3 linked regions of the Homo sapiens genome follow. The protein of the gene in region 1 interacts with the protein of each later gene in a biochemical or structural test. Each region holds a gene or a part of one and is shown in the gene's direction. Other genes may lie near its edges.

What was found.
Region 2: the proteins of MIOS (region 1) and SESN1 form a complex in vitro, tested with the Homo sapiens proteins (one study listed by BioGRID).
Region 3: the proteins of MIOS (region 1) and SESN2 form a complex in vitro, tested with the Homo sapiens proteins (one study listed by BioGRID).

What each region holds. Positions count from the first base shown.
Region 1 is NC_000007.14:7,563,033-7,569,890, forward strand, and holds the start of MIOS (GATOR2 complex protein MIOS), read left to right. Parts: upstream 1-3,851; 5' UTR 3,852-4,040; exon of another isoform or gene 4,041-4,574; 5' UTR 4,575-4,656; intron 4,657-4,993; 5' UTR 4,994-5,091; intron 5,092-6,858. UniProt on the Homo sapiens protein: As a component of the GATOR2 complex, functions as an activator of the amino acid-sensing branch of the mTORC1 signaling pathway. The GATOR2 complex indirectly activates mTORC1 through the inhibition of the GATOR1 subcomplex.
Region 2 is NC_000006.12:108,993,847-109,000,880, reverse strand, and holds part of SESN1 (sestrin-1), read left to right. Parts: intron 1-207; coding exon 208-390; intron 391-2,125; coding exon 2,126-2,368; intron 2,369-6,271; coding exon 6,272-6,419; intron 6,420-7,034.
Region 3 is NC_000001.11:28,255,127-28,262,517, forward strand, and holds the start of SESN2 (sestrin-2), read left to right. Parts: upstream 1-4,391; 5' UTR 4,392-4,721; coding exon 4,722-4,811; intron 4,812-7,391. UniProt on the Homo sapiens protein: Functions as an intracellular leucine sensor that negatively regulates the mTORC1 signaling pathway through the GATOR complex. In absence of leucine, binds the GATOR subcomplex GATOR2 and prevents mTORC1 signaling.

The sequences.
Region 1 (6,858 bases):
ACATCCTGGCCAAGCGCAGTGGCTCATGCCTGTAATCCCAGCACTTTGGGAGGATGAGGCAGGCAGATCACTTGAGGTCAGGAGTTCGAGACCAGCCTGGCCAACATGGTGAAATCCCATCTCTACTGAAAATATAAAAATTAGCCAGGCATGGTGGCGCATGCCTGTAATCCCAGCTACTCAGGAGGCTGAGGCAGGAGAATCACTTGAACCTGGGAGGCAGTGATTGTGGTGAGTTGAGACTACACCACAGCACTCCAGCCTGGGCGACAGAGCGAGGCTCCATCTCAAAAAAACAACAATAAAAAAATCCTATTAGGAATACAAAAGCTTAAATTAAAAACAAACAAAATACCGAGACTGAACTACAGTGGCCCTAGGATCTATTGTAAAACGCATGTTTAGTAAAGGCAACTAGTGTAATCTCAGACCAGTCTGTCAAGTTCTCTGCTACGGTTTACTGTTTCCAAAGATACAAAGCACTCACTCAACTCAGTAAATATTTTTTGGATACCTATGCAACAGGTGCTAAGGGAAATCCAAAGTTCCATGCTAAAAGATTGCTACCTGCAAGGATCTTGGTTTAGTAGAGAAGGGGAATCAGTTTCCAAAAAGACTGAGAAAGGTGTCACTTATTCCTGTGAGGGGCTTTAGAAGAATTAGTGGCAATATGAAAAAATATATACTTTCACAAAGCTTGAGTGGAAAAGAAAGTTGAAAAAGGGACATTAGCTGGAGGAGGATGTAGAATAAATACGTTGTTTTAGGATTTATTCAATACATTTTTATTTACCACATTTATTAGGTACTGTTTTACATCCTGGTGATTAAGCAGAGAATAAAATAGACAGAGCCCCTCTGTTTTAATTAGGGAATTGGCTAAGCTGCTCTACCAGGTCCAAACAAACAATGATTTTTTAAAGAACAAAGTTTATTTTCTCTTGCATAATGGTCCAGAAGTCTGTGGTTGATCCAAGGGAGGAGGTGCCCCAGCTCCCTGAGATTAGTTTGGGACTTAGGCTAGTGAGAACAGCTTTGCCTTCCTTAATACATGGCTTCCATTTCCAGTCTGTATTTCTTTTTGCCATTTGCCAGACAGCAAGAAGAGGGAAGAGAAAGTGTATAGCAAGCAGCTTTCCTTTTAAGGGACATGATCCAGTTCTACTCACATCTTACAGGACATAACTTTTTGATATAGCCTTACCTTGCTGAAAGGGAGGCCAAGGAATGTCATGTCTAAGTAGGTCACCAAGTGCCCTGCTCAAATTTGAATGTAGAGTTATTTCCTCTTACTAAAAAGAAAAAAAATACAGAATGAAAACTGGAGATAAGGAGAAGACACAGTCTAGAAGATAACTATAGGAAAGTAAAGAGATGGCGACGTATGTGAAGTTGTGGTGTCATAAAGACAACAACAAAGGAGCTAATTTATAGGTAGTCAGTGACAAGTGAGCAGTCTTGAGTAAAGGGAGAGTATGAGTCATGTAGATTTCTGCATTCCAGACAGAGGGAATAGCTAGTGAAGAAGCCCTGAGGCAAGAGCATGCTTGTCATGTTTAAGGAACAGTGAAGTCACAGGGATAAAAGACAAACCAGAAGAAAGTGATGATATGCAACAAAGTGAATGAGACATGTCAAGAGAGGAAGTAGTCAAGAACAACAGAAGTTGCAAGAGTGAAGCTTTGGCCATTGAAACTGGCAGCATGGAGCTCACAGGTGACCTTGACAAGTGGCAGTTTCGTGGCATGGTGGGCATGAAGGACTGAATGGAGTGAATTCAAGGGAGAGAGGGGGAAGTGGAATTACAGAGAGCAAATATGATCCTCTCCTTTGAAGAGAAAATGGGAATAACTTGAGTATGTGTTGAAAGTAAAGAACCAGTAGAAATGGAGAGGCAAAGATACATGGAAGTGAAGTAATTGATGGTGCAAGGTCCCAGAAGAGGAGATATACATGGGGTTCCTCCTCTTACTCTTTGTCACCTAAAAGAAGGTAAGAATGGTAGTGAATCAAGATGTTGGAGGAGGGAAGGAGGAAGCAGTGGGAGGTTGTGCAAATTCTAGCTAATAGTTTTAATTTTCTTTTCTGAAGTAGGAGGCAGTGTCATCTCCTGAGTGCAAGCAGAAAAGTTGTCCTCAACTATGTATAGTAGGAGTGGATAAGGAAGAGATTTGTATTGATCTGAGGTTTTGTGTGGGGGTTTGAGGCCAGGGTCAAAACCACTGAGAAGATTGGCAAGATAGTGTTTGAAGTGATGAATACTGTCATGTCTCCTCTCAGTAATACAGCACTTTCTTCAGCCTACATTCTTCTAATGGCAGGATTGGAAAGGCAATACTTTCCCCAAACTCATCATCTTATCAAAACCATCTGCCACCAAGATCATCAGGACTAAGCTCATTATGCTGTTTACAGCCATCACCACCACAAGCCCAAGACCACCCACTTTTAATCATGAACAGACAAGCAAAGACTGTCAGACATCTGAAGACTGCCTCGAGGTCAGACTCGTGACACCTGAGGCAGCACCATTCACTCAGTTTTGGGAACAAAAAACTTGGAATCCTCTTTCACCGTCATTCACTTGGTCAGTCACCAAGCTCTGTTCATCCCGCCTTCTAAGTATTCCCCAGGGCCCCCACTTCTCTCCATGCCCACTCTCCGTGCCACTGGTAACCTGCGTTTCTATCATCCCTCATTCTGATACTCTATCCCTCCAGCTCTCTGCGCAAAAACTGATCATACTGGCCGGGCACAGTGGCTCATGCCTGTAATCCCAGCACTTTGGGAGACCGAGGTGGGCGCATCACGAGGTCAAGAAATGAGACCACCCTCGCCAACATGGTGAAACCCCATCTCTCCTAAAAATACAAAAAATTACCTGGGCGTGGTGGCGCGCGCCTGTAGTCCCAGCTACTCGAGGTGCTGAGGCAGGAGAATCGCTTGAACCCGGGAGGCGGAGGTTGCAGTGAGGAGAGATCGCGCCATTGCATTCCAGCCTGGCGATATAGCCAGACTCCGTCTCAAAAAAAACAAAACAAAACAAAAAACTGATCATACCACTTGCCTGATTAAAAACTTTCGATGACTCTAACATTGCCTTTAGGTAAATGCCATCCAAACTCACTAAACTGGTTTCCAACCCGTTTCTGAAAGCACCTTAATCTCTCCCCACTTCCTCTGCTCATTCATCCATACCTACTGCCTCCTCACTGCTATGTCCTCTCTCCTGACCCGGCACTTGCTCTTTCCCAGTCCTAGAAGGCTCTTCTCTTCCAGTTCCCACTGCCCTTTTCCCTTTCCTGGCTAATCCCATACTCATCCTTCTTGTCTCAACCTAGTGGTCCTTAAGGAAGCTTTGCTGACCCCCGACACCGAGCGGGCGTCCCTCCTGTGTAGCACTGTGTTAGCCCTACCAAGTCAAGGCTCTCCTTGCCTGTTTCCTGCCGGAACCATGTCTTTTTACTTCACTCCTGTCTCCTCAGCATTCCAGCACAGTGCTGGGTACATAACAGGTGCTCAAGACAAGTTTGTGGAATGACTAATGAGTGAATAAATCATTAACCAAACACCTTGGATCTCCTACTACATCATTTGCAAAAAAAAAAAAATGTTTAATAGAAATTAAAATGGACCCAGTGAGCTAGAGTGTGTGACCCTGCTTAAAAACGACAGAGTGGTTCTGAGAAGCAGTCCCAGCCTAGGAACCCGGGGATCCGGCCTGTGGACCCACGGGCAGGGCCTGCGGGGTGCACCGGCGCTTTCGGGCGGAAGGCGGGGCCTCCCGGCCAGTGACCCCGCCCCGAGGCGCCTCCCGGGCGGGGAAGGGCGGGGCTCGCGCTGGGAAACTCCCCTTCCAAGGCCGAGGCGCCGCTGCGCGTCCTCCAGGCGTGGTGGTGGGGTCGTGGGTCCCAGCCCAGTGGTCCAGGTCACGGGCCGCACGGCCGCGGCCGCCATCTTGCCCGCGTCCGGGCTCCTGCGGCGGGCGGGGCGGTGTCCCGGCCGGAAGCGGCTGTGCGGCGGCCGCGCTGCCACCTCAGGTCAGTGAGCGCGACCCGGTTCGCGTCTCGACTCTCGGGAGCGCCGCGGCCGCAGCGAGGGGCCGGAGATAGCCTAGTTGAAAGGCCCGGGCGTCTCGGCGGGGAGCGCGTTCCGCGCTGTAGGGTAATCGCGCCGGGCGGCCGGCCGCCTGGCCGGGCCTCAGCGGGAGCCACCGGGGGCTGCGGGCGGCCGTGGGACCTGCGGAGACCTCCTCGGGGCGCAGGGAACACGCTACAGCCTTCGCCGCGGCGGGCTTGTGGGGAGCGGCGTCCCAGCCTTTCCCGGGAGGCTCAGCCAGGTGCCTGGAGCGGGAGAGTCGGACTCAGATTCCTGCTTTACCTAGAATAGCAACGTGCCCTGTTCCCGTTGTACCCTCTTAAATACTATACTTCTTAAACGGCCTGTCTCCCGGTGAGCTCTGTTCTCTTCTCATATGAGTAATGAAAATTAAGAGGATGAATGAAACCTCACACATGTTGTGGACTTTGCTGAATAGGTTAGCAAATGACTGCAGGCCTTTTGTATATTTTAAGGGAAATTTGGATATGTGCAGTGCATCTCCTCGAAGATGCTGATGGTGGAAATTTCTTGAAACCGCTCTCGTAATTTGCCACGGTAAGAAAAGTAAAAGACAACATCAAAAAGCATGTGGTTGGATCCTTTGTACACTGAGTAGTATTTTAATGTGTTGGACTTCACTGTCCAGTAGCCACATGGGATTGAGATGTGCTATAAGTGTAAAATACACATCGGATTTCCCAGAGTTGGTGCCAAAAAAACGTAAAAATCCTCAATAATTTTTGCATTGATTACATATTGAAAGGATAATGCTGTTGATATGTTGGCTAAATAAAATGTGTTTTTAAATTTCATTCCACCTAATTTTACTTTTTAAATGTGGCTACTAGAAATTTTTAAATCATATGGCTCACACTGTATTTCTTTTGGACAGTGCTGTTGCAAATATTCTGGTGAATGAACACAGAATCAGCATGGCTTTCCTTTGCTGAGAAATCACTGATGGGAAGTGAGACTTGTTAAACTTGAAAGGTGAGGATATAAATACAAGCTGTAATTATTGCAGACCGCACCCCTTCTACACCTAATTTTTTAATGTCTCCAAAATTTGGAAAAAACATTAACTTTCAGGGCTGATTAAGGGAATGGTAGTAATACTAACATCTGTGTGATGTGAAGAGCTCATTTCAGTTGATTGTCACAGCTTTGTGAGATGGAAATGGGATAGATTTTATCTCGGTTTTATGGTTTTGGAGTATTACAAGATTTGTTAGGATCTGAGCTGGGGAGTGGCTGTAGGATTTCTGACTCTAGATTGTTTTCTTTACACCAGATTCTTGGTGATGTATGTTCATGAGCAAGGAACTGTTTATCCTGTATATTACATGGTGAAAAAAAATACACTTCTTAAAAGGGTGGACATAGATGCACCTCTCTATACAGGGCTACTCTTATGATGTGCAACCTGTGCAGTAGCACAGAGCCCAGCATTTAGAATGGCTAGCACTTAGTTTAATGGCCAGTCTGCTGTCACTGTCTGGACATTGTAAATAATTTTTAAATGAGGGGCCCTGCATTGTTATTTTGCACCACGTCCTGCATATCGTGTAGCTGATCCTTTTCTTTGCAGTAATCTAGGACGGAAGTTGAGAGACCTTGGATAACCACCCAAACATCTGGTCTTCACTTTACTCCTTTGTGAAATTAGAAGATTTAGCTAGTCTTTTTCTCTCAAGTTTTGATTCTGTATGAATTACTGTCATCAGATTTTGTGGATGGCAATAGAAGTATTTTAGGTGCATAACATGGGAAGAAATGCTGATATTCTCCGTTGAGAGTCATGTAAATCAAAGTTTTAAATTTTATGCTAAAACTCGTATTTTATGTTTTGTAAGATGGATTTTTCTTTGTGGCATCAAGATTGCTTACCATAGACCATTGGTATAAAGAGTCGGGTTGTGGAATGAAAGCCTAGATAAAAAGTGTGTTTATTTAAACATTGATTTTTCAATGAGATGGGAAAATGGCCCAGATCTCATGATGTCTCCAATTAAGAGATTTCCTTTGTGGGGGTATGAGTATGAACCCTTATTTGGCAGTATCTGTTCCTCTTTGCTGTCGTAGCTGCTTCCTGTTACGTGAGGTGCCCCTCTTCCTCCTCATTCTTAAATTTTGAAACTCTTTTTAAGGTTGGACTTAATTTTATCACTACAGTGCAGGTTTTTTTTAGACCAGAGACTTCATCGGCTCATGTTTGCTGCTGTGTTCCCAGCTTCATAACCATGCCTAGAACATAGAAGGTGCCCAATCAATAGTCACAGAATAAATGAAAGTATAATAGCAGACATTTAAATCTTGGCCGGAGCCAGCCTCTCCTAGGGAGCGTAGAAGTGGAAGCATGAGGAAATAGGTAAAACTTGGAGATAGCAGTTGTGAGAAGTGTCAGAGGGATCATTCAGCACATGCATTTATTTAACAAATGTTTATTAACTTCCTACTAAGTGCCTAGCACTGTACTGGGGACTAGAGGTACAATGGAACACCAAAAATACTTCACCTGCTCTCATGGAGTGTATAATCCAGTAGAAGAGACAGAGATGGATGATTAAAGGGAAAGAATACTGTTTAATGACAGTGTATGTCTGAGTAACCAGACCTCGACTAGGGAGGGGATGGAGGGTGGTTGACGTCAAGGTTGAGCAGGTATTAACTTGGCCCAGAAGACAGGGAACTGTGCTCTAACCAGAGGAAACATCATTTGCAAAGGTATGGTGATGAGGGAGGAGGGTATATACTCTA
Region 2 (7,034 bases), on another chromosome or scaffold:
ATATTTTGTTTGTTCTTGGAATATTTCTAAGGTTCTTACAGTATTTGAATTTTTAAAATGTTTATATAAAAACTGCATTTCTGTAGTTTACGGAAAATTTGAAAACATACTAATAAACTTAATTAGCTCTTTTGCATGTTGTAAATAAAAAGGATATGTAGTTCAAGGTTTTAATATTTATAATTAGAATAATCTTTTTGTTTTAAGGCTGCGGCAAGACATCAGTGCTCCTACTTAGTGAACCTGCATGTAAATGATTTCCTTCATGTTGGTGGGGACCCCAAGTGGCTCAATGGTTTAGAGAATGCTCCTCAAAAACTACAGAATTTAGGAGAACTTAACAAAGTGTTAGCCCATAGACCTTGGCTTATTACCAAAGAACACATTGAGGTAAGCAGTGGGGTAATATATCTTGGGAGTCATTTCAGACTTTTTTAGAGCAGTTTTAGGATTACAGAAAAATCGCACAGAAAGTACAGAGAGTTCCTATTTTCTACCCCCTGAATCTCTTCCCACAGATGCACATTTTCTTCTGTTACAGCATTTCTGTGGTACATTTGCTGTAATTGATATATTACTAGTAACTCTATAGTTCACATTAGGGTTCAGTCTTTGCATTGTATCGTTCTACACATTTTGACAAATGCCTAATGTCACGCATCCATTACAATATCATATGGAATAGTTAGTACCCTAAAAATGCCCTGGGTTCCACCTGTTCATCCCTTTCCCCCCCTTTCCCCTTCCCCTAAACCCCTGCAACCACTCATCTTTTTATTGTTTCTATATAGTTTTGCCTTTTCCAGAATGTCATACAGCTGGAATCATACAAAAGTATGTAGCTTTTCAGACTGGCTTCTTTCATCTAGCAACATCCATTTAAGGCTTCTTCATGCTTTTTCACGACTTGATAGTTCATTTCTTTTTATCACTGAATAATTCTCTATTGTATAGTTATGCCATAGTTTGTTTATCCATTCACCTATTGAAGGACATCTTGGTTACTGCCAGTTTGGGGCAATTACGGATAAAGCTGCTGTAAACATTCATGTATAGGTTTTTGTTTCTTGTTTTTTGTCGACAAAAGTTTTCACCTCATTTGGATAAATAATTAGGTGTGCGATTTGTGGATAATACGGTAAGCCTACGTTTACCTTTGTAAGAAACTGTAAAACTCTTCCAAAGGGCAGTATCAGTTTGCATTCCCACCAGCAATGAAGCAGCATTCCTGTTGTCCCACATCTTGGCCAGCATTGGTGTCAGTGTTTTGGATTTCAGCCATTCTGATAAGTGTGAAGTGGCATCTCATTGTTATGCATCTTTATGTTACGTTTTAAATGCCATGTTAAGCTAGTTCTGGTTCTATTTATTAATAGAGATAATAGAGTAAAAGTAGATTGATGTTCTCTAAAATTGTCTACCATGCACTATAAATTCTTAGAGATGCATCTTTTGGTCTTATCTATTTCATAGAATAGATACTATTAGATAATTAAAGATATTATCAAGAAGATACAAGATTTGAATATATTAATACAATGCCTATTATATATTGTCAAGTAAGGAAAAATTATACAAGATTACAAAATAGATAATGAAGCAGAAGTGACACAGAATTGAATAGAAGAATTATAGAAGTTATATATAACTTTTTGATGATTTAGGAATATTTAATCAAGTTGTTCAAGCCACTATCTTAAAAATTCCTTGAGGAGGCCTTATAATAAACAAAGCACAGGCGTTTCACACAGCAGCTTCTACTTTTAAACACAAATTTATTACATTTGCTTTGAGATTTTGAACTAACAACACAGTAATTCATTCATAATCCAGCATCTGAAATACAGCAGCCACTTTTAAGCAAAATGCATTCTCTTACATTTTAAGTCAATATTTCAGAAAATCAAAATAATAGTGAATGTCTTAACAGATTATGTTAAGTTCTATTTGTGAATGCATATTCATAAAAATTAGCAAATTCTGGGTTCTACATGTTTCAAATGATAATTTTATGCTAGGCTTTGTATGATGACTCATGTTTTCAATAAATTAAATACTAAAATGAACTGTATACTTTTACCACACCCCAGTACAAAAATATATTCTTTTTTTTTTTCCCCCTAAGGGACTTTTAAAAGCTGAAGAGCACAGCTGGTCCCTTGCGGAATTGGTACATGCAGTAGTTTTACTCACACACTATCATTCTCTTGCCTCATTCACATTCGGCTGTGGAATCAGTCCAGAAATTCATTGTGATGGTGGCCACACATTCAGACCTCCTTCTGTTAGCAACTACTGCATCTGTGACATTACAAATGGCAATCACAGTGTGGATGAGATGCCGGTCAACTCAGCAGAAAATGTTTCTGTAAGTATTATTTGTCATGAGATTGTCATAAAACTAATCACAATAATTGCTGTTATATTATTTCTTCAGTTGGCTTCTTAGAAAAACCCACCCTGTTAAGACTGTGGAGATATTGGGCCCCTATATCTATTCATTCAGTAGGGTTTTATTGACTGCCTCACATGCTCATCACTAGTCTAGGTGATATACAACATTTTACAAAAGTGATGTACAAAACTCTAAGACCCTGTAGGAGTTTACATTTAGATAATTTTAGGATCAGGAGCCAACAGCATGTGTCCCGTCAGGACCAAATAATATTGATTGGCTACTGCAGTGACATGAGGGAAGGCTGAAAATAGTGTGGCCTGGTGGTGGAGACTTTTTGTGCCAATCACATTCTTCTCTTTTGCACAAAATAAACAGTCTGGCTTCTTAATTTTTTATATTTCAGAAGATTTAATCAACTTTGATCTAGAAATTTCTCTCTTCAGAATTCTTTTTCATGTTTAACTTTGCACCAATATAGAAGGTGATATCAGGTGAATGTAAATGTGTTAAAATGCTTTCACCTCTATTCCTTCTGTTCCTGGCTTTTATATATTCTTAGTTTTGTTACTCCTTTGAAACAGAGCAAGTTCAGTTTTCTATAAGCAAATTTTAATTCCTGTATATGATGAATCAAAATCTCCTTCTGCATTCTTTTGTTGTAGTGAAAAAGCAAGGGTTTATTTTATGCTTCAAAAATAAATTTTAGAAGCAGTACCACAGCCATCTGAATGCTTTACATGCATTTTCTGAGTTATATTATCCCTTTGAAATAGATTTGACAGGTTGAATTGCCTTTAATTTATATATTTGACTTCGGGCAAGTTACTGAATCTCAGTTCTTTTGTATCTAAATAAAAGTAAAACACAAAGTTATTGTGAGGTTTAAATGAAATGTCTCTAAAGAAGTAAAATGCCAAGTACAGCACTTAGCATTTGTCAGGTGCTAAATAAGAGGTAGCATTTACATATGGTGAAATTAGCACAAGAAAGAATAATTTTCCCAAGGTTGATCATAGGACTGCCAAAGACCATCAGTTTCACCCTCCTTTGAGCTGCCTAGATTCATGTTATAGGCCTGCATATGGCCACTGATTATTTTTCAAAGCTTGGCAGTCAGAAGAGGATCCAAGAGAGTATTCAGTTGCTAGAATGCTAGGAGATGGATTCTTCTCCTTGCTACCAATAATTTAGTACAAGGCTAAAGAAAAAAGTACTTGATTGTTTCTAGTTCTCCTTCTATTAAAAGAATGAATAGTGAAAGAAGATAATTTTTATTTCTCTAATAAGCTTCCTATTCCCAGGTAAGTTGGATACTTTTAGAAGGTTTATGGCCTACCCTGATGACACTTTGACAGTGAGCTGATATGGCTTGTTCTTTAGGTACATATCCAGTATCTGACTCAGCTCTTCAGATACAAATGGTAACAAACAAGAATTTTCCCTCCCTCCCAACCCTGGAAACTACTTATTCATTTCTTTACTCTCTCCATAGTTGTCTTTTCCAGAATGTTATATAGTTGGAATCATACAGTACGTAGCCTTTTCAGATTGGCTTCTTTCACTTAGTAATATACATTTAAATTTCTTCCATGTCTGTTCATGGCTTGATACCTAATTTCTTTTTAGCACTGAATAATTTTTCATTTTCTGGATGTAGCAACATTTCTTTATTCCAGTAGCTACTGAAGAACACATTGGTTGCTTCTAAGTGTTGGTGTATTATTCTGTTCTCATGCTGCTAATAAAGACATACCCAAGACTGGGTAATTTATAAAGGGAAAGAAAAAAGAGTTTTCTTACACAATTTTAACATTTTAATATTAAAATGAAATGCCATTTTTTTTTTAATCCCAACTTTAGCAGATCAGTGAAGGAACAAAGAAACCTACTTTGTTTCCTTTCCCTCTTATTTCAATATAATTTATCAAGAATTACCTTTCCTAAGAATACTTAAAATTTGGGCTCTTTAAGAGGAGAATAGGTAAACAAAATAAATTAGTGACAGATAATGTGAGTTGACAGAGATCTTTTTTAAACTTTGAGTCATCCTGTCATGAAACCTAATCCTTTTCAGCTATTTTTTATTTGGTTACTGACTCTATGTCAGGAATAACTGGGGAAAATGCATGCATGCACCACAAGAATCTTCAGTATCGTCATAGAAACACTTCCCATCATGAAAGTCTTAGAGAAAGGGCTTAATACTGGGCATTTCAGTATAACTGTTTGGATCAAAAGAAAATGTAAAGCACAAGTGATATAGATTGTCTCTTAATATAGAATTATCCTGAGAGTCATTCTCCAGCAAGTATTTCTTGAATATCTACTATGTACCAGGTACTATGCTAGGCTTGGGATATATACAAGTAAACCAAACAGATTTCCTACCTTTATGAAGGTTTGGTCTGGGAAGGGAGCCTGCATTAAATCAATATCATGCGAGTAACAATTATAAATTATGATTGGTCCTCTGAAGGAAAGAGGAGAGGGTTGTGTTAGAATAATTGGAGCTTGTGGGGTAAATGACAGTGTTTACAAGGATGTAAGCTGCTACCTGAAGGATCAATGGGTGGAAGCCAGGAAGAATGGAAGATAGAGGTCTTAAAAGCATTCCTGGCAAAATAAATTTATAAGGGGGGAAACATTAATTTTGTATGTATACATTGAGATTTGAGATTAAGACTTTTTTTTCTCTTTTTGAGACAAAGTCTCTCTCTGTTGTCCAGGCTGGAATACAGTGGCACAATCACAGCTCACTGCAGCCTTGAACTCCTCCTGGGCTCAAGTGATTCTCCTGCCTTGGTCTCCCAAAATGCTGGGATTACAGGCATGAGCCACTAGCCCAACCCAGACTTCTTAATATATTCATTTTATAAGAAAGGTATAAATTGCATAGATTTGATCTAGCTTTTGTAGCAAGAATGCAGCAGGGTATAGAAGTATAACCAGTTTGACTAGTGCAAAACCACTTGGCCAGTCCTTTGTCAGCCCCATTACTCTATGTGTGACACTGCTCTAGTCATCCCAGCAAGTGACAGCTGCCAGATCCATTTGCAGAGGTCAGGTGGCCAACTCCAGCCATGTAGACATCTTTCATGTTTAATTGGTAAATTGTAGAAATAAAGCTAATTATTAAAGATGATAGACACATTGACAATATGTATGCCCAGTGTACACAGTTGATGCAAAATCACTTATACTTTGTGTATCTTATTTATTTAAAGATTAAGCAAGTAGAAGTTATCTTACGCAGTTCTGCTTTAAATTGACAAGTAGTTTAAAACAGCATAAATGGTAATGACATTATTGCTAATTTTATAAGGTAAAAGCATTAGAATGTGTTCTTAAAATCATTTTTTTCCTTATATTTTAAAATCTGCATGTCTGTATTCCTAATAGGCCAAAGTAGTTTTTTATTCATTCATGTACATTAAAATTATAGGAATATTTTCCCTATATTCTACTAAGATATAAATTCTGGCCAGGTGCAGTGGCTCACGCCTGTAATCCCAGCACTTTGGAAGGCCGAGGTGGACAGATCACAAGGTCAGGAGATCGAGACCATTCCTGGCTAACACGGTGAAACCCCGTCTCTACTAAAAAACACAAAAAATTAGCCGGGCATGGTGGCAGGCACCTGTAGTCCCAGCTACTCGGGAGGCCGAGGCAGGAGAATGGCGTGAACCTGGGAGGTGGACCTTGCAGTGAGCCGAGATCGCGCCACTGCACTGCAGCCTGGGCAACAGAGCAAGACTCTGTCTCAAAAAAAAAAAAAAAAAAAAAAGATATAAATTCTTATGAGACAGACTTAAAAGATAATTCATATATATTCTATGTCTGCCACATGTAACATTAATTGTATTTTTTCTTCAGGTAAGTGATTCTTTCTTTGAGGTTGAAGCCCTCATGGAAAAGATGAGGCAGTTACAGGAATGTCGAGATGAAGAAGAGGCAAGTCAGGAAGAGATGGCTTCACGTTTTGAAATAGAAAAAAGAGAGAGTATGTTTGTCTTCTCTTCAGGTAAGAACAACCATTATATAGTCAATATAATTATTGCAAACTCAACTTTTTATTTAGAGAATTTAAATAACTTTTAAAGCATCAATCTAAATATGTCCTTCCTTTTAGAGAGACTATTGCATAGGTATTCCTATTTACAAATAATTTTTAAAGCAAGCAACTAAGAAAAGGTCATAAGTGAAAACATCCTAGACTAAGGGGGAGGACATTTAATTTGGATTCTGGCACTAAAATTACTTCTAATAAGCTTTGTGAACTTGGCTTAGTCACTTAACATATGAGTGCCCTCTTTTTTCTCTTTTTTTTTTTTTTTTTTTTTTTAAGAAACAGGGTCTTGCTTTGTTGCCAGGCTGAAGTGCAGTGGCGTGATTGTAGCTCACTGTAACCTGAGACTCTTAGGCTCAAGCGATCATCCTGCCTCAGCTTCCTGAGTAGCTAGGACTACAGACACATGCCACCATGCCTGCTTAATTTTTTAATTTTTTTTGTAGAGATGGGGTCTTGCTATATTGCCCACGCTTCTCTTCCTTAATATGAGGAAATAGTCCCAAGATTGCTTCTAGAGTTAAAATTCTGTGATTTTTTTGGGCACGGCAGTTTGTACCTGTAGTACCG
Region 3 (7,391 bases), on another chromosome or scaffold:
GGGGTTTCACCATCTTGGCCAGGCTGGTCTTGAACTTCTGTCCTCGTGATCCATCCACCTCAGCCTCCCAAAGAGCTGGGATTACAGGCGTGAGCCACTGCGCCTGGCCAATTTTTGTATTTTTAGTAGAGACGGGGTTTCCCCATGTTGGCCCAGGCTGACTTTTCTTTTTTTGTTTCTTTAAGGAGTTGCTTCTTATGGCTGAGCAAAGAAAGTGGTTTCTTGAGATGGAATCTACTCCTGTGAAGATGCTATGATCATTGTTGAAATGACAACAAAGGATTTAGAATATTACATAAGCTTAGTTGACAAAGCAGCAGCAGGGTTTGAGAAGATTGACTCCAATTTTGAAAGAAGTTCTGCTGTAGGTAACATGTTACCAAACAGTATCACATGCTACAGAGAAATCTTTCATGGAAGGAAGAGTGGATCCTTGTGGCCAACTTTATTATTGTCTTATTTTAAGAAATTGGCACAGCCGGCTGGGCACCGTGGCTCACACCTATAATCCCAGCACTTTGGGAGGCTGAGGCTGGTGGATCACCTGAGGTCGGGAGTCCAAGACCAGCCTAACAAACATGGAGAAACCCCATCTCTACTAAAAATAAAAAATTAGCCGGGCGTGGTGGTGCTACTCGGGAGGCAGAGGCAGGAGAATTGCTTGCACCTAGGAGACGGAGGTTGCCGTGAGCCGAAATCACACCATTGCACTCCAACCTGGGCAACAAGAAGGACACTTCGTCTCACAAAAAACAAACAAACAAAAAAAAAGTGCTCTAACACAGCCTTGTGCAGTCAAAAGAAGATACTGTGTGACCCTGATAAGCAATTTTTGTTTTTATTTTTATTTTTATTTTTGATTCAGTGGCACAATCTGCAACCTCCATCTCCCAGGTTCAAGCTATTCCCTTGCCTCAGCCTGCCGAGTAGCTGGGATTACAGGCTCTCGCACCACACCCGGCTAATTTTTATGTTTTTGGTAGAGATGGGATTTTACCATGTTGGCCAGCCTCCCAAGTACATGAGATTATAGGTACATGCCACCACACCCTGCTGATTTTTGTAGTTTTTGTGAATACAGGGTTTCTCCATGTTGACCAGGCTGGTCTCGAACTCTTGGGCTCAAGGGATCCTCCCTTTTGGCCTCCCCAGATGCTGGGATTACAGATGTTAGCCACCAAGCCTGGCCAATTTTACCTTTCTGAGCTCAAGTTTTCTCACTTTGTACACGTGGTCAATGAGAGATTTTTATCATCAGTTGGAGGGAAGTGGTGAGATATATACACATGATATCAAGCATACACCAAGTTTGGAGATCAGTGGTAGAAAGAGATAAAAAGAATGTGTTGAAGATGTTGAGGACTGGGTGAGATTACTTTCAGCTGAGCTTTTTGGAGGAGGTGTCATTTAAAGTCTTGCTTCAGGCCACAAACAGGAATGAAGGCATTGAATGATGGATACTATTTCAATGGGTAGAGATTTGCAAGAAGAGTACTGAAAGAAAGATTTGAAGGCCAAACAAGAAACATGGATGTTGCAGGTGGTAAGAATGGGAGGGTAAATTAGGTGCATCTTGGCAAACCTTGAATGTTAAGATAGGAGTTTGATTTTTTTTTTTTTTTTTTTTGAGACAGGGTTTCGCTCTGACACCCAGATCGTGCAGTGGCACGATCTCAGCTCACTGCAACCTCTGCCTCCCGGGTTCAAGCGATTCTCCTGCCTCAGCTTTTCGAGTAGTTGGGACTACAGGCGTGCACCACCACGCTTGGCTAATTTTTGTATATTTAGTAGAGATGGGGTTTCACGATGTTGGCCAGGATGATCTTGAACTCCTGACCTCAGGTGATCTGCCTGCCTTTGCCTCCCAAAGTGCTGGGATCACAGGCGTGAGCCACCATGCCCACCCAAGGAGTTTGATCTTAATTCTGTAGCTGATGAAATACCAGTGAAGCCTTTTGATCTGGACTTTGACATTACATAGTAAATTTTTTTTTTTTTTTGAGACAGAATCTCACTCTGTCACCCAGGCTAGAGTGCAGTGGCACGATCTCGGCTCACTGCAAGCTCTGCCTCCTGGGTTCACGCCATTCTCCTGCCTCAGCCTCCCAAGTAGCTGGGACTACAGGCACCCGCCACCACGCCTGGCTAATTTTTTGTATTTTTAGTAGAGACGGGGTTTCACCATGTTAGCCAGGATGGTCTTGATCTGACCTCGTGATCCGCCCACCTCGGCCTCCCAAAGTGCTGGGATTACAGGCGTGAGCCACCACGCCTGGCCACATAGTAAATTTTTTAAATGAAAGCTGAAGCTGACACAGGGTAGTTTAGAGAGGAAGTTGATGCAAAGGAAGATTCCGTGACCAAGGGCATATGATTGTCAGGACATTTTGCTAGGTGACATAGAGCAGGAGATGGATGTCAAGATGTAGACCCTGCCAGCCAGGCGCGGTGGCTCATGCCTATAATGCCAGCACTTTGGGAGGCTGAGGCGGGCAGAGCACAAGGTCAGGAGTTCGAGACCAGCCTGATCAACATGGTGAAACCCTGTCTCCACTAAAAATACAAAAATTAGCCGGGTGTGGTGGCACTTGCCTGTAATCCCAGCTACTCAGGAGGCTGAGGCAGGAGAATTGCTTGAACCTGGGAGGCAGAGGTTGCAGTGAGCCAAGATCGGGCCACTGCACTCCAGCCTGGGAGACAGAGTGCGACTCTGTTTAAAAAAAAAAAAAAAAAAAAAAAAAAGATGTTGACCCTGCCCTCAAGGAGTTTACAATTAAAAAGATCAGATAAGCCAGACTCAGTGGTGCACACCTGTAACCCCAGTGATTGATTTGGGGGGCTGAGGAGGGAATATCGCTTGAGCCCAGGAATTTGAAGCTGCAGCGTGCTATGATCATGCCACTGTACTCCAGTCTGGGTGACAGAGCTAGACCCCATCTCTAAAAAACAATACTAATAAAAAGAAAAAAGGGTCAGATAAAACATGTACATAGAAAATTACAATACAAGGCAGAATGTGGCTGGACATGGTGGCTCATGCCTATAATCCTAGCACTTTGGGAGGCTGAGGTGAGAGAATCGCTTGAGCTCAGGAGTTTGAGACCAGCCTGGGCAACATATTGAGACCCTGTCTCTATTTACTAAAAAACAAAAAACAAAAACAAAAAAACAGAAAACAAAAAAACAAAAAACAAAAAAAACTAGGTAGAATGTGATACATGTGAAAAGAGATCCAGCTCAAGTGCCTTGGGAGCTCAGGGGAGGGTGAGATTAATCTCTTTTTCCCAAGAATCTGGAGGCAGGAAACCAAGTCGGTTTCATCTTTGGAATTGTAAGCTTAGACTTAGAAGTCTCAGAGGGGGACTTGGGGGTCTTATCCACCCTCACCCCTGGCAGGATTCCCTGTCTAGAATAAACAATAACTTTAAAATGGAAACAAAAAAAGGAGCTCTGAAGGAAAACTGTGAAGGAAGAGGCTCCGTTTGAAATGAATAGAAAATGAATTTAGCTTGGAGGTGCTGAGGTGTTGGTAGAGGCAACTTTCTGGCAAGAGGCGAGTTGAAGGCCAGGAAGTGAATGAGATCAGGGAGAGTGTCTGGAGGGAAGAGGGGCAAAAACAAACTGGGGAAGCACCCACGTTTTAGGAAGTGGGTGGTGAAAGAGGAGTCAGAGAAGGCCAGAGGGAGAGGTGAGCAAAGATCCAGCAGAACACCTTGTTACAAAGTTTCGAGGAGGGTGGGAGGGGTGGAAGCCAGGACGGGTAGCAGAAGGAAGAAAACTTCCAGCAATAGGGATTGAGGTTCCACACGAAGTTACCAATGACATTTCAAGGAATGAAGGCTTTTCCTGAGGCTCCACAAATAAGGTGAATTCCCTGTGTCTCGCATCTTTGGAGCTTCCCCGAGGCCAGGGGGAGCAGGGTTGTGCCCTCTGACCTCTAAATATCTGGGGTTCAGTTCTATAATTAGCAGCACCGGATAGGACGCGAGCCAAACCTCTCTTAACCCTAGCCAGTCCCTCCAGGAACTGAAAAGATGAAGAATTCATTTAGGAGATTTCACACTCGGCTGTTTGGCCTAGCCCAGTGAAGTCCCTTTTCATCACGCAACCCTAATGACTCTTAGGGCTGTCACTGCCGTCTGGTGTTGCCAGGGATCTGACTAAACCGTCTTGCAAAAGTTTGCAGCATTCACCCGAGGCGGACTACAACTCCCAGAATTCCGGGCGCTCCCCGGTGCTGATTGGCGGAGCCCGTGACTCCAGGGGGCGGAGTTTCCCCCGCCTCCCCGGGGAAACAGACCTCTGATTGGCTGGACCGCCGGGCTTTTGTGTCCCCGCCCTCCCCCGGGGACCGCAGCGGGCTGAACTGCTGGTGTCAGAGCCCGGCGAGCGCTGGCAGTTCCGCGGCGGGGATGCTGAGGAGCGCTGGGTCCGGGAGCAGCCCTGGCCCCTGCGGACTTCCGAGGCCGTGAAAACCCCTGCGCTGCGGCCCTTCCCAGGCCCCCGAGGCCGTTCGCCGTTCCCGAAGCCCGACTGGGGGAAGAGTCCAGCACCAAAGCGGCCGTTCTCGGATTCCGGAGCGTTCTGGAGCCCCGAGAGACGCCCCGGGGTTCTAGAAGCTCCCCGGCGGCGCCCAGTCCCGGCTTCATTCGGGCGTCCCTCCGAAACCCACTCGGGTGCACGGGTCGTCGGCGAGCCGCGACCGGGTCCTGGCGCGCACCATGATCGTGGCGGACTCCGAGTGCCGCGCAGAGCTCAAGGACTACCTGCGGTTCGCCCCGGGCGGCGTCGGCGACTCGGGCCCCGGAGAGGTAAGCGGCGGCCGCGCGACGCCCCTCTTCCCTGGAACCCCGAACCGCGTCTGAGCCTCAGGCTGTCCGGAGCTGAGTCGGTGTGTCCTGGGCTCGGGGAGGGAAAGCCGAGCGCGTAACCCGGGACCCGGGTTGCATCAACTGGCAGCCGCGGCCCTCGGCACCCCTCCCCCACTCTGTCTCCCCTCTCCCTCCTTCTCCCCCTCCCTCTCCCCCTCCTCCCTCCCTCTCCCCCTCTCCCTCACCGCCCCACCCCAGGGCCGCGGATCCTTCCTCGGCTCCCTCGGACTCCTGGCCAATGAGGGAGAAGCCTTCTGGAGGCTCTCCGAGCTTTGGGCTCCTGAGCGTCTTCAAGTCCAGGCAAATCCCGGCCGGAGCGGCCAGACCACTCCTCCTCCCCGCCCCCTTCCGCGGAGTCCCTTCCTCTTCGCGGGGGCCGGCGGGCAGAGGACCCTTCCTGGGGTGCCTCCCGGCTCCTGTCCCCCAGCGCGGGGCGTAGGCACCTGGGACTGGCCAGTGAAAGTCGACCTCATCCTATGTCCACCGCACTCCTGCTTTGGAGGGAGAGCGCAGGGGCTCTGGGGGCTTGGCGGGCCGCCCGGTACGCGGCGGCGGCAGCCAAAGCTGGGGGGAGAGGGGACAACCCTGGTCGCGGCTTCCGAAGCCAAGCGCGGGTTAGGCTGCGCCCTGCTAAGTAAGTGGTCTGAAGGCCCAGAAGTTTGTTTTCCAGAAATTCCTCCCCCACCCTCCCTTCGCGCCGCTCCCCTCCACCCCCCCGCATTCGCATCCCGGCATAGCCCGCAGGGGCTTTGCAGGGAGACCGGGAATTAGGCTGGACCTAACCAGACTGACAGTTCGCACTCCCCCACCACTACCAGCAGCAGCGATAATGGACATCTTATCATTTATTATGCACCTACTAGATACCAGGCTCTGAGTTTTTTTCGCCTTTAACCTAAGTCCTCAGGACTAAACCAGCAATACAAGCTACGCTATAGCCCCATTTTACAGGAAGAACATTGAGGCCCACGATGGGCTCAGAAAGAGGCTTTCTTCATTAACCCCACTGAATATCTTGTTCTTTGGCCTTATGATTTCGGAGATTGCACGGCACTAGGAGCTTCTAGTTGCTTTAGTTTACAGGCCTAGAGTGTGGTGGAAGTTGTATTCTGGACCTGGGATTTGGTGGAGTGCTATGACCCCAGGAAAATCCCTGCTTTTCTCTTAGTAACGTGGTTTCTGGGGATCCTACCTCCGTCGGTGTATAGTTTGTGCCCTGGTTTTTGTTAGCTTGCTTACCCTTCTCTGCCGTGATTTAGGAGCGCCATGTGGAGGAATGGCTCTTCTCCTGCAGCTTCTCAGCTGTGTGACTTCTTTGGAAAGATGGAAATAATGTTACTATTGAGAACACCTGAACACTAGAGAGCAAGAGTGCTGGGTTCATGTCCCAGCCCTCCTGCTAACTTGCAGTGTGTGGCTTAGCCAGTAATCACTTCTCTGATCTGTGGTTTCTTCCCATGGGGATTTTACAGTATCTCTAAGGGATTGTTGGGAGAATTAACTCAGAATACAAGCAAAAGCTGAAGCACTGTGACTGGAACATAGTAACTGCGTGATACTTGCTTGCTATTATCAGAACGTGGCCATGGCACGCACAGCTTTCTCCAGAGTGTCTCACAAGGGGGTGCCTGAGCCTGTTCCTGAGATCAGACACTGTACACCCCTCTCTGGGTCAGTGCCTGGTCTAGGGAGAAAAGGCTTTGAGGGAGGGATCTTTACACAGAAGCCATGTTTCCTCAGTGGAGAAAACTGCTGCTATCTGGGAGGTTTCTTTTTCTTATCTTTTTTTTTTTTTTTTTTTGAGATGGAGTCTTGCTCTGTTGCCCAGGCTGGAGTGCAGTGGCACGATCTCAGCTCACTGCAACCTCCATCTCCCAGGTTCAAGCAATTCTCCTGCCTCAGCCTCCCTAGTAGTTGGGATTACAGGCACCCGCCACCATGCCCAGCTAATTTTTGTATTTTCAGTAGAAACAGAGTTTCAGCATGTTGGCCAGGCTGATCTTGAACTCCTAACCTCAGGTGATCCACCTGCCTTGGCCTCCCAAAGTGCTGAGATTACCGGCATGAGCCACCGCACCTGGCCTATCTGGGAGATTTCTGTGTATTCCTCTCTCGAGAAAAGAGGACCTTCGGACGGTTTCTGCTTTGAGTGGTGGCATCCTTAGAAGACAGCAGGGTGCTGATCTTTGAGTCAGGTGCCCGAGGTCCAAGAGAAGACCCAGGCGTGCAGCTCCCTTAACTCCCTGTCACTTCACCACACACTCCCTTTCAGGAGCTCATTGCCTTCAGATGTGTGTATCTTCAGAAAGTTCCAAGGGCTTCACTCTAGTACTGGTAGTATTGGGCTCCCGAATAACTTTCTCGGCCAGATGCAGTGGCTCATGCCTGTAATACTAACACTTTGGGAGGCCGAGGCAGATGGATTGCTTGAGCCCAGGAGTTCAAAACCAGCCTGAAACCCTGTCTCTACAAAATATACAAAAGTTAGCCAGGCGTGGTGGTGTGCGCCAGCTACTTCGA